Linked DNA regions of Homo sapiens: regions 2 and 3 are each reported to be linked to region 1. Evidence: microRNA targets listed by miRTarBase, many of them from high-throughput screens and not tested one by one. Region 1 holds a microRNA gene; each other region holds the end of a gene's coding sequence.
What was found. Region 1 holds the annotated microRNA hsa-miR-6721-5p (UGGGCAGGGGCUUAUUGUAGGAG, at 3,133-3,155, shown strand). A microRNA usually pairs through its seed, bases 2 to 8, with sites in the 3' UTR of a target mRNA and lowers its output. Matches are read on the target gene's strand: a 7mer-m8 pairs with bases 2 to 8, a 7mer-A1 pairs with bases 2 to 7 and ends in A, and an 8mer does both.

Region 2: the mRNA of TXLNA is a reported target of hsa-miR-6721-5p. Seed matches in the 3' UTR shown: 7mer-m8 at 972-978, 7mer-m8 at 1,232-1,238, 7mer-m8 at 1,736-1,742 and 7mer-m8 at 2,296-2,302.
Region 3: miRTarBase lists SIX5 as a target of hsa-miR-6721-5p. Seed matches in the 3' UTR shown: 7mer-m8 at 4,036-4,042 and 7mer-m8 at 3,997-4,003.

What each region holds. Positions count from the first base shown.
Region 1 is chr6:32,168,167-32,173,238 of GRCh38, reverse strand. It overlaps MIR6721 (microRNA 6721), which reads left to right and starts at 3,123; the gene lies at 3,123-3,209. EGFL8 (EGF like domain multiple 8) reads right to left here. Exons shown (of 9, transcript NM_030652.4): 9 at 4,958-5,072. It overlaps AGPAT1 (1-acylglycerol-3-phosphate O-acyltransferase 1), which reads left to right. Exons shown (of 7, transcript NM_006411.4): 2 at 1,734-1,942; 3 at 2,169-2,302; 4 at 2,639-2,814; 5 at 2,979-3,074; 6 at 3,201-3,273; 7 at 3,791-5,027. The coding sequence starts at 1,743. The coding sequence ends at 3,963. It overlaps PPT2-EGFL8 (PPT2-EGFL8 readthrough (NMD candidate)), which reads right to left. Exons shown (of 16, transcript NR_037861.1): 16 at 4,954-5,072. RefSeq lists an enhancer at 2,741-3,940.
Region 2 is chr1:32,194,599-32,199,670 of GRCh38, forward strand. It overlaps TXLNA (taxilin alpha), which reads left to right. Exons shown (of 11, transcript NM_175852.4): 11 at 304-3,687. The coding sequence ends at 597. It also overlaps a transcript of CCDC28B not described here. Among named protein-coding and RNA genes, the nearest start is that of CCDC28B, 3.5 kb to the right of the region's middle. RefSeq lists an enhancer at 4,656-5,072.
Region 3 is chr19:45,761,180-45,766,251 of GRCh38, forward strand. It overlaps SIX5 (SIX homeobox 5), which reads right to left. Exons shown (of 3, transcript NM_175875.5): 3 at 3,606-4,932. The coding sequence ends at 4,322. MEIOSIN (meiosis initiator) reads left to right here. Exons shown (of 15, transcript NM_001310124.2): 12 at 500-688; 13 at 760-1,004; 14 at 2,159-2,248; 15 at 2,792-3,362. The coding sequence ends at 2,939. Among named protein-coding and RNA genes, the nearest start is that of DM1-AS, 4.1 kb to the right of the region's middle. RefSeq lists an enhancer at 2,363-2,917.

The sequences.
Region 1 (5,072 bases):
GGTATTTGCCTGAACACCCTTTTTGTGAATTGTTACCCTGCCCCCAACACTGGGGCAGAGTGGAGGAAGGAGGAAGAACCTAGAACACAGGTTCTGTGTTCCTGCCTCTCTTCCTCTTGAGCCCTTTCCTCTCCCAGGGCAAGTGCTGTTAGGTCACCTTTACTCCATTCCCTCCTTTTTTCACTTGGTGAGGCCTCACACACTGTACCTGCCCACGCAAAGTGTCACTAGAAGGAAGGGAAAGGGTAGTAGGATTCGTTTGCCTGTCTGGAGGTAGGATTGGTCTTTGTAGCTATTCCAGGTATGTCCATAAGTTTACCTAGGAATAGGGGAGCTGCCTGGGTGGAGAGGGATTTTTCTAGTTATGCATTTACATTCTTTTATCTGTCACTGGGTGTAATTATAAATTTGTGTCTATGTGTGAACATGTTAGTCTTTGTATGACTGTGTGTCTGTTGGCATTAGTGACACGAACTTTTAATCTTGCCATTTGGCCCTTGGGTATATGGCTGTGAGTGTTCTGTCACAATCACCATATATGCTGTGTGCTGTGTTCGTATATATATATGCAATACATACCAGTGTCAGCGTAATGGAGTGGTTAGGAACACAGGCGGCTTAGATTTAACCTAGAAACTGCTGTTTAGGAGCTGTATGACCTCAGGTAAGTTATTTAGCCTCCCTGGGCCTATTTCCTATAAAATGTAAATAGTAATAGTACTTTCTAGACTATCATATGCATCATTTTAAGAGTTTAACTTAATGTATAGACCAGTACTGTTCTACAGAAATATAATGCAAGCCACAATGTAATTTTTTTATGGTAGCCACATTTTTACAAGGCAAAAAGAGTGAAATTAATTTTAGTAATATATTTTCTTGAATCTGATAACATCCAAAAGATTATAATTTCTTTTTTTTTTTTTGGAAATGGAGTCTCACTCCATTGCCCAGGCTAGAGTGCAGTGGCGTGATCTTGGCTCACTGCAACCTCCGCCTCCCGGATTCAAGCGATTCTCCTGCCTCAGCCTCCCGAGTAGCTGGGATTAAAGGCATGCGCCAACAGGCCCGGCTAATTTTTGTATTTTTAGTAGAGACGGGGTTTCACCATGTTGGTCAGGCTGGTCCTGAACTCCTGACCTCGTGATCTGCCCACCTCGGCTTCCCAAAGTGCTGGGATTACAGGCGTGAGCCACTGCGCCCGGCCCAAGATTATAATTTCAAAATGTAGTCAGCATAAAAGATTAGTAATGGATATCTCACATTTTGTTTTTTATTCAGTCTTTGAAATCTGATGTGTATTTTACATTTCCAGCACATCTCAGTTCAGACTAGCTGCATTTCAAGTAGCCACATGTAGGTGGTGGCTACTTTCTCGGACAGCACAAGTATAGACCATTATAAGACCCTTACCAGCTACAAGTGTTAGCTATTATTCTTGTTGTCATTTATTATCAGGTATCTGTGAATTGTAGATGTCTGTGTCTTGTGTCTCTTGTCTGAATATATCCGGAGCCTTTGGGAAGAGTGGTGGGAGAGCAGTCCTGAGCTCTTTCTCCACCACCCTCATCCTAGAGAGCCTTCCTGGGAAGGTTTCAATGAGACCCCTGCCCCAGTTTGTGTCTCAGGCCCTTGTCCTCATAGCACCAGCCCCCAGCCCTGCCTTCTGTGCCTTGCCTACCCCACTCTCCTCCAGAAACCAGGCTGATTGTCCCTTGCCCCATCCCCTGCAGGTGGCCAGAATGGATTTGTGGCCAGGGGCATGGATGCTGCTGCTGCTGCTCTTCCTGCTGCTGCTCTTCCTGCTGCCCACCCTGTGGTTCTGCAGCCCCAGTGCCAAGTACTTCTTCAAGATGGCCTTCTACAATGGCTGGATCCTCTTCCTGGCTGTGCTCGCCATCCCTGTGTGTGCCGTGCGAGGACGCAACGTCGAGAACATGAAGTGAGGGGCAAGGGGTCTTGGGCAATGAGGGAACCTAAGGGTACAAAGTGAGTAGTGGATTGGGGGAAGGGGGCATGGTGTGTGTAGAAAAGACTGAGAGAGACCAGAGACAGGGAATGGGGAGAGGACTGCAAAGGTGGTCAGAAAGACAGTAAGGTGGGGGGAGCTGAGGCATGCAGATGGACATCAATGGATCCCACTGGGACCCCTTGCCATGACCCCACAGGATCTTGCGTCTAATGCTGCTCCACATCAAATACCTGTACGGGATCCGAGTGGAGGTGCGAGGGGCTCACCACTTCCCTCCCTCGCAGCCCTATGTTGTTGTCTCCAACCACCAGAGCTCTCTCGATCTGCTTGGTGAGACCCCACCACAGGGCACACCTCCCCCAGCCATGCCTCCCCTCCTGAAACCTTCCCTAGAATATCTTCTCCTAGAGATCCTCAATTCCCCTTCCTCTGGGACATTGCCCCCTTGCCTCCCACTCAGGCCTTCATTCCCTGGGTAGAACTGCCCTCATAAGCAGGTTACATATACTTTTGGTCACCCTTTCCTTCACTTGGGGCCCCCCTCCCTGCCTAGTCTCCTCCTTCACCTCCAGTCCCTACCAGAGGGTGATGAGCTGGGTGAGGTGGGTTGCCTTCTGTGACACTCTGCCTCCACCCCGATCCTCACCCACTCCCACCCTGCCCAAGGGATGATGGAGGTACTGCCAGGCCGCTGTGTGCCCATTGCCAAGCGCGAGCTACTGTGGGCTGGCTCTGCCGGGCTGGCCTGCTGGCTGGCAGGAGTCATCTTCATCGACCGGAAGCGCACGGGGGATGCCATCAGTGTCATGTCTGAGGTCGCCCAGACCCTGCTCACCCAGGACGTGAGTCATCCTGGGGAAATGGGGGATTGGAGGGATACAGAGTAGAACAGTTGTAAATAAACTGATATGCAGGGCCAGTGGGCCTCAAAGGTCCCATTATAACATCACACCTATTCTGACTCCTCCATATGTATTTGTCTTCTTTGACCCTCTTTCTCCCCCAGGTGAGGGTCTGGGTGTTTCCTGAGGGAACGAGAAACCACAATGGCTCCATGCTGCCCTTCAAACGTGGCGCCTTCCATCTTGCAGTGCAGGCCCAGGTGACTACTGCTCTTCGTTCTGCTACTCAGCTGCCAACCCCCACCATTCCCTCATCTCTGGGCAGGGGCTTATTGTAGGAGTCTCTGAAGAGAGCTGTGGACTGACCTGCTTTAACCCTTCCCCAGGTTCCCATTGTCCCCATAGTCATGTCCTCCTACCAAGACTTCTACTGCAAGAAGGAGCGTCGCTTCACCTCGGGTGAGGGCTTTGAGCAGTTCTGGGGTAGGGTGTGTCCGGAGAGGCTGGGAGGACATCCCTGTGAGGCAGGGGGATCATTCAGTGTCAGAGCCATGAGATGTCTACACAGTCATCTAGTCTAACCCCACATCAGCCAATAAGTCTTTACTAAGCACCCACCATACCCTGCCAGATGGGTAGCACTTGGTCCCACCAAGAGAGGCTGTTACTAATCTTAACAGGAAAGATAAGGCCTGTGTGCACAAAGCTGTAATGAATAACACTCATTCAGCAGTAAATGCCAAACCCAGAGGAGGGGGGCTGGAGGGGTGCTGAGGAGATGTCTGAACTGGGGATTGGAGAAGGCTTTGTATAGGAGAAGGGCCTCAGAAGTGGCAGCTGGCAAGCCCAGGGATGGTTGTCCAGGGTTGGGGGAAGAGAACTGAAAGGTTGAGGAAGAGTATCACTCGGAAGCTGGGCCCCACCTGTGGGCAAAGACCTGGGTGGACAGGCCATGATGGTGCTCCCCTTGCCCCAGGACAATGTCAGGTGCGGGTGCTGCCCCCAGTGCCCACGGAAGGGCTGACACCAGATGACGTCCCAGCTCTGGCTGACAGAGTCCGGCACTCCATGCTCACTGTTTTCCGGGAAATCTCCACTGATGGCCGGGGTGGTGGTGACTATCTGAAGAAGCCTGGGGGCGGTGGGTGAACCCTGGCTCTGAGCTCTCCTCCCATCTGTCCCCATCTTCCTCCCCACACCTACCCACCCAGTGGGCCCTGAAGCAGGGCCAAACCCTCTTCCTTGTCTCCCCTCTCCCCACTTATTCTCCTCTTTGGAATCTTCAACTTCTGAAGTGAATGTGGATACAGCGCCACTCCTGCCCCCTCTTGGCCCCATCCATGGACTCTTGCCTCGGTGCAGTCTCCACTCTTGACCCCCACCTCCTACTGTCTTGTCTGTGGGACAGTTGCCTCCCCCTCATCTCCAGTGACTCAGCCTACACAAGGGAGGGGAACATTCCATCCCCAGTGGAGTCTCTTCCTATGTGGTCTTCTCTACCCCTCTACCCCACATTGGCCAGTGGACTCATCCATTCTTTGGAACAAATCCCCCCCACTCCAAAGTCCATGGATTCAATGGACTCATCCATTTGTGAGGAGGACTTCTCGCCCTCTGGCTGGAAGCTGATACCTGAAGCACTCCCAGGCTCATCATGGGAGCTTTCCTCAGCACCTTCACCTTCCCTCCCAGTGTAGCCTCCTGTCAGTGGGGGCTGGACCCTTCTAATTCAGAGGTCTCATGCCTGCCCTTGCCCAGATGCCCAGGGTCGTGCACTCTCTGGGATACCAGTTCAGTCTCCACATTTCTGGTTTTCTGTCCCCATAGTACAGTTCTTCAGTGGACATGACCCCACCCAGCCCCCTGCAGCCCTGCTGCACCATCTCACCAGACACAAGGGGAAGAAGCAGACATCAGGTGCTGCACTCACTTCTGCCCCCTGGGGAGTTGGGGAAAGGAACGAACCCTGGCTGGAGGGGATAGGAGGGCTTTTAATTTATTTCTTTTTCTGTTGAGGCTTCCCCCTCTCTGAGCCAGTTTTCATTTCTTCCTGGTGGCATTAGCCACTCCCTGCCTCTCACTCCAGACCTGTTCCCACAACTGGGGAGGTAGGCTGGGAGCAAAAGGAGAGGGTGGGACCCAGTTTTGCGTGGTTGGTTTTTATTAATTATCTGGATAACAGCAAAAAAACTGAAAATAAAGAGAGAGAGAGATCTGGGTGTTGGTGGTTGCATTTGTTAAGGAATTGAAGAAGCAGT
Region 2 (5,072 bases), not on the chromosome of region 1:
AGCTCTGAGGATGGTATTAGTAGTCCTGTTTTATAGATGAGACAGGCTCAAAAGTCAAGTCCTTTGCCAAGGTCACGTGGTAGATAAATGGAGGAATACGTTATCTCCAAGCCGTGCCCCTTTTCTGCACCATGCTGCCCCACCTGACAGCCTAGTCATGGCTTCAACTAGGACTGTTTCCTAGAGGGGGCCAGCTTTGGACTCGGTCTGCTCTCAGCCTTGTTAAAGTGTTTGCCGCCAAGTGGTGATGGTAAGTGGGAGGTTGATGGGGCACGGCACTGAAGGTCTCATTTCTTTCCCTAGAAAACAGTCCGGGATAAAGAACTGGAGGGCCTGCAGGTAAAAATCCAACGGCTGGAGAAGCTGTGCCGGGCACTGCAGACAGAGCGCAATGACCTGAACAAGAGGGTACAGGACCTGAGTGCTGGTGGCCAGGGCTCCCTCACTGACAGTGGCCCTGAGAGGAGGCCAGAGGGGCCTGGGGCTCAAGCACCCAGCTCCCCCAGGGTCACAGAAGCGCCTTGCTACCCAGGAGCACCGAGCACAGAAGCATCAGGCCAGACTGGGCCTCAAGAGCCCACCTCCGCCAGGGCCTAGAGAGCCTGGTGTTGGGTCATGCTGGGAAGGGAGCGGCAGCCCAGCCAGGCCTGGCCCATAAAAGGCTCCCATGCTGAGCAGCCCATTGCTGAAGCCAGGATGTTCTGACCTGGCTGGCATCTGGCACTTGCAATTTTGGATTTTGTGGGTCAGTTTTACGTACATAGGGCATTTTGCAAGGCCTTGCAAATGCATTTATACCTGTAAGTGTACAGTGGGCTTGCATTGGGGATGGGGGTGTGTACAGATGAAGTCAGTGGCTTGTCTGTGAGCTGAAGAGTCTTGAGAGGGGCTGTCATCTGTAGCTGCCATCACAGTGAGTTGGCAGAAGTGACTTGAGCATTTCTCTGTCTGATTTGAGGCTCAGACCCCTCCCTGCCCTTCAGAGCTCAAGACAAGTAATACACCCAGGTCTTGACTGCATTTGTCTTGTGAGCAGGGCTTGCTTGGTCAGCTCAGGCCCTCCTAGCTGCTCTGGAGGCTCCTTTGATTCTCTAGACCTGGAAAAGGTGTCCCTAGGCAGAGCCCTGGCAGGGCGCTCAGAGCTGGGGATTTCCTGCCTGGAACAAGGGACCTGGAGAATGTTTTTGCGTGGGATGATGTGCTGGTCAGGAGCCCCTTGGGCATCGCTTCCCCTGCCCTTTGGTAGTGCCAGGACCAGGCCAATGATGCTTCTCAGTAGCCTTATCATTCACAGGTGCCTCTCTAGCCTGCACAAATGATTGACAAGAGATCACCCAAAGGATTATTTCTGAAGGTGTTTTTTTCTTTATTTCTTTTTCTTTTTTTTTTTTTTTCTTTTTCTTTTTTTTTTGCACATGACAGTGTTTGTATTGAGGACCTTCCAAGGAAGAGGGATGCTGTAGCAGTGGTGCCTGGGTGCCTGGCCTCCAGTGTCCCACCTCCTTCACCACCCCACTTGGCTCCTTTGCCATCTTGATGCTGAGGTTTCCTGTTTGGTGAGATCAGGTTGTTTGTGGTAAAAGAAAGGAAAGGGCTTCTGATGGCTTTGCCACAAGCTTACCTGTGGGTTTCAGTCCTGAGAGGCCACCACCAGTTCCCATCAGCACTGTCTCCATGCAGCAGTTGCTGGGTCCCATGTCCAGCTGCCTCTTTGGCTTCATGGGTTTTTCTGCTTCCTGCCCCCACCCCCACATGTGCAATCCTCAAGATTTGTCCTGATTCTATTTCCTGGCACCTCCCTGCCTGTCCTTGGGGATTCTACTTCTTCCTGTGTGGGAGCCCATAGCTGTTGTCTAACAGGTAAGAAATGAAATTGAACTATTGACTGGGCCCCAGAAATCCATAAAATGGCTGCAGACAGTTGTTTCTGTGTCCTGTTCTACCCCCACTCCAGTACATAACTACTATGTACTGTGTAGAGCCATTCTATATGCTGAATGTTCTGCTGTTGCAAACTTGCCAGGGTATTAGCCAGTGTTTGTGCCAAGCAGTTTTCTGGGACAACAGAATGACTCAGACCAAGATGGATAGGATGGTTAGGGCTTTGCTTCTTGCTGTTTTTCTTTGAAGCTAGTTCATTGTCCTGCAGGTCCCTTCATCTTCCATACCTAGCCCACTCTTTTAGCCCTTACCTTAAATCTCTCAGATAAGTTGGTTCACAAAGAATGTTAAGTACTGAATCATGTGTGACTGAGACCAGAGATGGCAAATGAATGGCACACCATTTCTCCTTCTCCTGCCCCAGGGCAGGTACCACTGATCTGCATCAGAGTTGCCTGCTATTCTCTGGTGTATCCTTCACATCTAGGTGCCCTCAAGCAGCTGTGTGAGTGTTGAGATCTCTGCCATCTCTGGCTGAGATACTGCTGTCCTGTGAAGTGTTTCCCATGACCTTTTTCTTCCCCTTTGAATCCCTCTGTCTGGAGTAGTCCTTGCCTCTTCCTGCTCCAGTAGGGCCTTTTCCCTACCCCAGCCCCTGTGCCAGGCTAAGCTGGTACAAGAGCTGCCAACCTCACAGAGTGTTTGCTAGGCGAGAGAGGTGCAGGGAAGAGGCAGAGGTATGCACCTTCCCCCTTGAAGAGAGGGGAAAGGCCTACAGTGGCCCACATAATTGCCTGACTCACACTTCAGCTACCTCTTAATGCCTGTGGAGGGACTGGAGCTGCTGGATCCCAGTGTGGTGGTGTAGGAGGCCACAGTGAGCAGGTGGCCCCAGCTGGGTTTCCCAGGTCAGGAATGTGGGCCCCAGGCAAGGTGCAGCCTTTGCTCACAGCTCCATCCATGTCTAGACCTTCAGGCCAGTCTGCAGATGAGGTTCCCTACCTTTTTCTTCTCTTCATTGACCAAATCAACCAATCACTACAGCTGCTCTGCTTCTGCTTTCCAAAGTAGCCCAGGTCCTGGGCCAGATGCAGGGGAGGTGCCTATCCATGAGTGAAGGCCAGTGTCTTCCTCACCTGGGTGGGTCCCACACTTGTGACCTCAGTTTTAGGACCAAGATCTGTGTTGGTTTCTTAGATTGCTAGCTTTTCCTCCAGGGGACCACAGCAGGTGAAGCTCAAGAGCGCATGGCTCTGCTAATAGTAAATTGTTTTCAGGGCCTTGTCCAGCTGAGAGCTTCATGTCCACCAGATTCTGAGAGGTGTCAGCAGCACTTTTTTTTTTTATTTGTTGTTTGTTTTCCATGAGGTTATCGGACCATGGGCTGAGCTCAGGCACTTTCTGTAGGAGACTGTTATTTCTGTAAAGATGGTTATTTAACCCTCCTCCACCCCATCACGGTGGCCCTGAGGGCTGACCCGGAGGCCAGTGGAGCTGCCTGGTGTCCACGGGGGAGGGCCAAGGCCTGCTGAGCTGATTCTCCAGCTGCTGCCCCAGCCTTTCCGCCTTGCACAGCACAGAGGTGGTCACCCCAGGGACAGCCAGGCACCTGCTCCTCTTGCCCTTCCTGGGGGAAGGGAGCTGCCTTCTGTCCCTGTAACTGCTTTCCTTATGGCCCAGCCCGGCCACTCAGACTTGTTTGAAGCTGCACTGGCAGCTTTTTTGTCTCCTTTGGGTATTCACAACAGCCAGGGACTTGATTTTGATGTATTTTAAACCACATTAAATAAAGAGTCTGTTGCCTTACTTGTTTCTCTCCTGACCTGTGTATTCCTTTGTTTCTGGATCTGATCCATTCAGCCCCTTCCATCATCACTGACTTGTTCAGGTCTGCTGCAGAGCGCCCATGGTGGTTCCCTGGTATCTTACATATTCCACAGTGTCTTTGAGCAGTCGCCACAGCCTCAGGATGCTGGCATATTCACTTGAGCTGCCTGAGTGGAGCCCTTGGCAAAGTTGGCAAGACCCTTGCCTCAGAGAGGATCACACACACACAAAAAAGTTTTCCCTGACCTGGGGGCTCACAGGCTAGTGAAGGGAAAAGGTACTTTTAGCTATAGACAGGTCAATGGTGCTGAGAGCAGAGAGGAGGCCCCTGCCCCCTTCAGCAAGGTGAGGGGGTGATACCTGGAATGGCCTTCTGAACCACAGGGCAGGTAGAAGATGAACGTCATTTAGTGATTAAATGGTACAGCTGGGAAGCAGGTCCATGGGACTGGGAGAGGGGGTGAGGCTGGGCCCAGAGTCTGGGTACCAGGTTAAGGAATGTGGGCTAGATCCAGAGGGCAGGGGGGGCAACTGAAGGTGTTTCAATAGGAAATTGATAGGCTCCAGCAGTAAGGCAAAAGGCATGGAGCCAGGCATAGGCCATTTGAGGCCCAGGTTAAGAGGGGTGGACACTCATCACTGCTATTTGGGTCTGAGCTGTGGGTAGGCTCCTATAGCCCTGGCCTGCCCAAGGGAATTCACAGGGGCCTCTAATTGTATGCATTCCTTAAGGAGAGCACATTCTCTGTTCAGTTTTTACACCCCCCATTTACCCACCTCAAGCATGGGACTCCTATATGGGAGACATGCTGCTGGTGGCCTCACCCAGCACCCTGTTCTCTCTGGGTCCTGGGTTGGTCAGGCACAAAGGATGATATGTGCTGAATGCCCAGGAAATGGCAGAGACAACCCACCTGCCCTTCCCTCCAGGCCTCCACAAATAGATGTGCCCACAATGACTGTGACAGTCCCAGCAGAGCCTCTGACCCTTCTAGCTGGGTCCTGATACATGTTTTCCATGCTGGCCATGTTATTTCTAGTCGCAGATCCTCTGGAGGGTGTGGGGGGGGTGCCGCCCCAACTCTTGGAGATTCCAAGCAAAGCAGCTCTGAGAATAATGAGGTTTCTGACCCCCCAGTGAAGCAGCTGAGGATGGGAACCACAGGGGTGCTCCCTCTGTCAGCAGCATTACCACTGTCTACTCTAGCAGCTCCGGTGGGGAAGGAGAGGGATTTCTGTTGTCCCCAGTCTGGGCCCCTGGTTATTGAAAAAGTTCGGAATTACTCTTTACCCTTGTGGAGTGTTCTGAGTGTTGGAAGTACCCAGGAAGAAGCCCTGAGCAGGTGCCCTCAGGAGCAGTGCCC
Region 3 (5,072 bases), not on the chromosome of region 1:
AGTGGTACGATCTCGGCTCACTGCAACCTCCGCCTCCTGGATTTAAGCGATTCTTGTGCCTCAGCCTCCAGAGTAGCTGGGACTACAGGCGCCCACCAACATACCTGGCTAATTTTTTAGTATTTTTAGACAGAGTTTCGCCATGTTGGCCAGGCTGGTTTTGAACTCCTGACCTCAGGTGATCCTCCTGCCTCAGCCTCCGAAAGTGCTGAGATTACAGGCATGAGCCACTGCGCCTGGCCTATTTTTTTTTTTTTTTTTTTTTTTTTTTTGTAGAACAAGGTCTCTCTATGTTGCCCAGGCTGGTCTGTAACTCCTGGCCTCAAGCAGTCCTCCTGCCTCAGCCTCCCAGAGTGTTGGGGTTACAGGCGTAAGCCACCACACCCTGCCAATCTGAGCTGCTGCTAATGCTCATGTTATGTCCTAGAAAAGCAGTACTGGGGGGATGAAGGGGCACCACTTGTCTCCCCTCCCATCTTTCTCCCTCATCATGCCCCAGGACACAGCCTCCAAGGCCCCCAAAGACCCTCCTGAGTCCCACAGCCTGCACCGGTCCTCAGTCTCGCTGGACCACTGCTACCTCTCGCTGAGCGGGAACAGCAAGGCGCCATCCAGCTCCAGCTCCAGCTCCAGCTCCAGCTCCAGCTCGGAGGACAGCGACTCGGAGCCCCTGTGGAAGCAGCGAGAGGTGAGAGACACGGCCGCATGCCAGGGCCAGCAGGGCCTCCTTCCTCTCTCACCACCCTCTCCCTCCCCCAGGATATGCAGGCCAACCCTGTGGGCACGCCGGGCTCCAGCGAAGAGGACGAAGACACCACATGGACCCCCACCCGGCTGGCCTCACCCCTGCTGGCAGCTGAGAAAAAGGCCACGAAGGGCCAAGTAGCCAGGGCCCCTGTGAAGCCCAAGGAGAAGAAGAAAGGCCCCTGCCCACCCCAGATGAAGAAGAAGTGTGTCAACGGCTTCATCATGTTCTGCAGGATGAACCGGAAGCAGTACATCCGGTGGGTAGGGGGTCGTCTTTGGCCCTGGGGAAGGCCCTGGCTTCGTTCTCTGCCCGCAGCCTGGCCATGCCGCTCCTCACAACTGTCTGACACTTTTTCCCCCTCCGAGACCCCACAAACCCTTCGTGGACCACAGTTCTTCCCCAGAACTGAACCCGGCCCCATTGTATTGGACAGGGTCCATCCATTGTCAGCGCTGAAACCCAATTCAGGCTTTAGACTTCAGAAAAAAAGGAGTTTTTTTTGTTTTGTTTTGTTTTTTGAGACAGAGTCTCACTCTATTGCCCAGGCTGTAGTGCAGTGGCACAATCACAGCTCACTGCAATGTCTGCCTCCCGGGCTCAAATCACTGCAACCTCTGCCTCTCAGATTCTCCTGCCTCAGCCTCCTGAGTAGCTGGGATAACAGGCGCGCCATCAGCTAATTTTTGTATTTTTAGTAGAGACAGGGTTTCACCATGTTGGCCAGGCTGGTCTCGAATGCCTCACCTCAAGTGATCTGCCTGCCTCGGCCTCTCAAATTGCTGGGATTACAGGTGTGAGCCATCAGGCCCAGCAAGAAAAGAAAATGAATTGGCTTATATAACCTAGAAAACAAGGGCGGGTATAGACTGCCTTGAGACATAGCTGGTTTTAGGGCTCACACAGGCTGTCTGGAATCTTTGTCCTTTTCACCCAGTTCCTCTGTCTTCCGGGCTGGCTTCATTCTCTGGCAGGTGGGGTCACCCCAGGAGGCACAGGCTCGGGTCCTGTCCCCCACCCAAGCGACCCCGGGAGGAGGAGAGGTCTCTAAGGTTTTAAGCAAAGTCCTTGGGACTGACTTTGGTAGATCCGGTGCCAACCCTGAACCAGTCACTGCCAGGCCTGGAGCCAGGGGATGGGGAGGCCCCCCCCAAGCCACAGTGGAAAACAGCTAGTTCCTTTACAGGAAGATCCAGATGTGGGGGCCAGGAGCGGTGCCCACAGGTCCCCTGCACTCTCCTGGGACACCAGGTGCCCCCTTGTGAACAGCCGCTGAGTCCAGCTCCCTCTGCCTCCTCAGCTCCAGAGGGTGGTCTTGGAGGCCTTGTAGACCCACAAGGCTAGGAAGGGTCTGAGTTCTCAGTCAGGGTGTCCTGCAGACCTCTCCTTACCTCCTCCTCCTTCCTGTCCCAGATCCTGCCCTGGAACCGCTTCCACAGCTGCCACCAAGGAGCTGGCCCAGCTGTGGCGGGTGATGACCCAGCAGGAGCGGAGGCCATACTGGTGAGAGGCTCCGGCCCCGAGGTGTGGGTGGGGGGTGGAAGAGCCTCCCTACCCCGGAACCCTGCTCTGTCTCTGGAGCCTTGGGTGTCATGGCATGGGAGACTGGGCCGAGGAATTTGCGTGTTGCCCCTTCTTATGAAACCCTTGGGGGTGACACAGGTGTAGGGGTACCCCACCACAGCTAAGCTGGGGAACAGCTGAGCCCAGACATGGACCCCTGCCTCAATTCTTTTGCTGTCTCTGCCACACGACTTTCTCGGGGCGTGGTCTGATTTTCCTGTCGCTTGGCCACCTCGACTCCCCCGAATCCTGTCCCCTCCACCTTCAAGGAGCTGCCACCTGCCCTGGCTCCTGACTTTGAACACATCCCAGAGCCCTTGGCCGAGTCCCATCTTACTGACTGGGACTTGGTGGACCCAAGGCTCGCCCAATAGAGGCTAAAACGGTGGCCCAGGCCCCTGCGGGGACACAGGATTGGGAGTGGTACAGGGATGCCCGGGAGGCGAGTGAGGAAGCCAGGCCATCCTGCCACCGTCTCCCCAGCACCAAGGCTCGCAGGTTCAGCCGCCAGCACAACCGCATCGTGAAGCAGGACGGCTCCAGCAGCGAGGCTGAGGACTGGGAGACGCCAAAGCCCTTCTACCAGCTGCTGGCCGAGAAGGCCTTGCCGCTGCCCCCGCACCTCCAGTGAGAGGGCGGCCCCTCGCCTCGCTCCCCTCACCCCTCATGGCAACCGCGGCTCTTGCTGGAAGCCAGGACCCATCGATGAACTTGTCCCTCCTGGGCCTCCAGCCCCTGAGAATGCAGGTCCCATGGGACTGGGGAGGGGGGCACTGATTAGCCCCAACCGCTGGGCACATTTGCCTGGAGCACCAGAGTCACCCACAGCTGCCTTGATTCTCCCCCAGGCTTAGGAAGGAAACCCAAAATGAAATGCGGGGTGTCGGAAGGTGAAGTTTACCCACCCCTCTCCCCTTCCCTTCCCCACCCCAGAGCCACTCGGTTGCAACCCTGTTCATGCTCACCTCACCCTACTCCTCCCTCTCCTGTTCTATTTTTAGACTATTTATTGTTTTAAATAAAATAAAGCAAGTGGAACCTTTGTTACCAGCAAGAGAGACAAGGGCAGGCCCTCCTGCGTCCCCCTGCTGCCCCACTGGGGTGCTCCGTCCACCCTCATCTGGAGGCCTGTGGCTTGCAAGAGGCCTCAGTGCCACCCCCTCCCCAGCCACTCTGTGCATCTGAATGCAAACCCCTCTTCCCCTCGGGAGGCAGCAATGGGAAGGCCAGGTCTCGAGGTGGGCTCTGTGTTCAGCGCTGCTTTGGACAGACACTGGAAGGCACCCCAGACCCCTGGTGGTGGTGTAATCCGATAACTTTATTTTAATTGAAAATGGAGGCATAACATGTCCTAGAAAAATAAAGATTTAGGATACAAAGGAGACACAGCGGCAGGGCTGCCCCCAGGGATGAGGGAATCTTTGGTCTGGGCCGGATAATGAGGACAAGGGCTTGAGTCGAGGGGAGCTGGTGAAGGAAGACCCCCGTCTCCCCACAGCTGCCCCACCCCCCGCCCCTGGCAGGAAATGCCACACTGGGGAGGGTCTCCAGTCTCAGGGGCGCGGGGCTGCCTGTCCTCCACCTTCGGATTCCAGGCAGTTGTGACAACACCAGCTATCGGCAGAGCTATTAATAGTGTTTCAGGGAGTGACAGGGAGAGGGCTCTGGGGGCTGGAAGTCCGGCCCTGGGGCAGGGTGTTCCGCTTACAGCTAGTACCAAGTGGAGGGGGCAGGGCCCCTGAGTCAGGACCCTGAGTCCCCCACGTATATGGCAGGGCACAGCATGGGGAGGGCTGTAACAGAGAGGCCTCCCATCCAAAGGGGGATGGAGACCTGGACAGGAGGTGGCCGGGGATACAACCCCCAGCACCACCAGGGCTTGGAGAGGCCACCCAGGCAGAAGGATGTGGTGACTGGGGTCTTCAGCAACCGCATTTCTGGGGCTCCCCCCTCCCATTCCTGTCCCTGCGTCTTCAGCACCAATGTCGGGAGAGGCCACGGGGCCACACTGGGTCACAGTTCCAAGGGCTCCTCCACAGGCACCGACTGGAGCTGGGTCAGAACCTTGGCCTCAGCTTCCAACCCCTCGTCAACCTCACCCCCTGCGGTGGCCCCCAGGAGCAGCCCCTCAGGGTCGGGGTCTGGCAGCCTCAGCACGGTGTGGGGGGCCTGTGTCCCCAGCCCCTTTTCCGCTTCCAGCAGCCCCTCTGTTCCTGCGCTTAGTTCCAGCCCTGCTGACCAGACAGGCACGGCCGCGGGTGACAACATCAGCCCCTCTGGTGGGGGCGCCGGGAAGTTGGGCAGGAGGCCAGGGGAGTCAGGGGAGAAGGGCAGGCTGGTGCTGGAGGTGGTGGCAGCGGCGGGGGGTGGCTGCTGTGCAGAAAGGGTGCCTAGGGCGTGAGCCTCTGGGAGAGCAGGGCTGGGGGCCACCGGGAGGCCTCCCTCAGGCACGGAGATGGCCGTCTCTGGCTTCAGTGGCAGGGCCAGGCCGGGGGCTGGCGGCAGGACCTGGGAGACGAGCATGCTGGTGGGGAAGGTGGCGGTGAGGATGATCTTGCCCTGCTGCAGGGCCACACCCGTCACGATGGGGCTGCCAGACACAGGGTTGGCCAGGAGGAAGTTTCCTGTGGGGAGAGAGGGACCGAGCGCAGGTGAGAGCCAGGAGAGCAGGCCAAGCCAGAGAGAAGTGGAGACTGTGCAGCTGGAGGGCGGGCGGAGGGAGCCTTGTGGTGGGCCTTGGGGCACTGGGACTTGCCAGGGATGA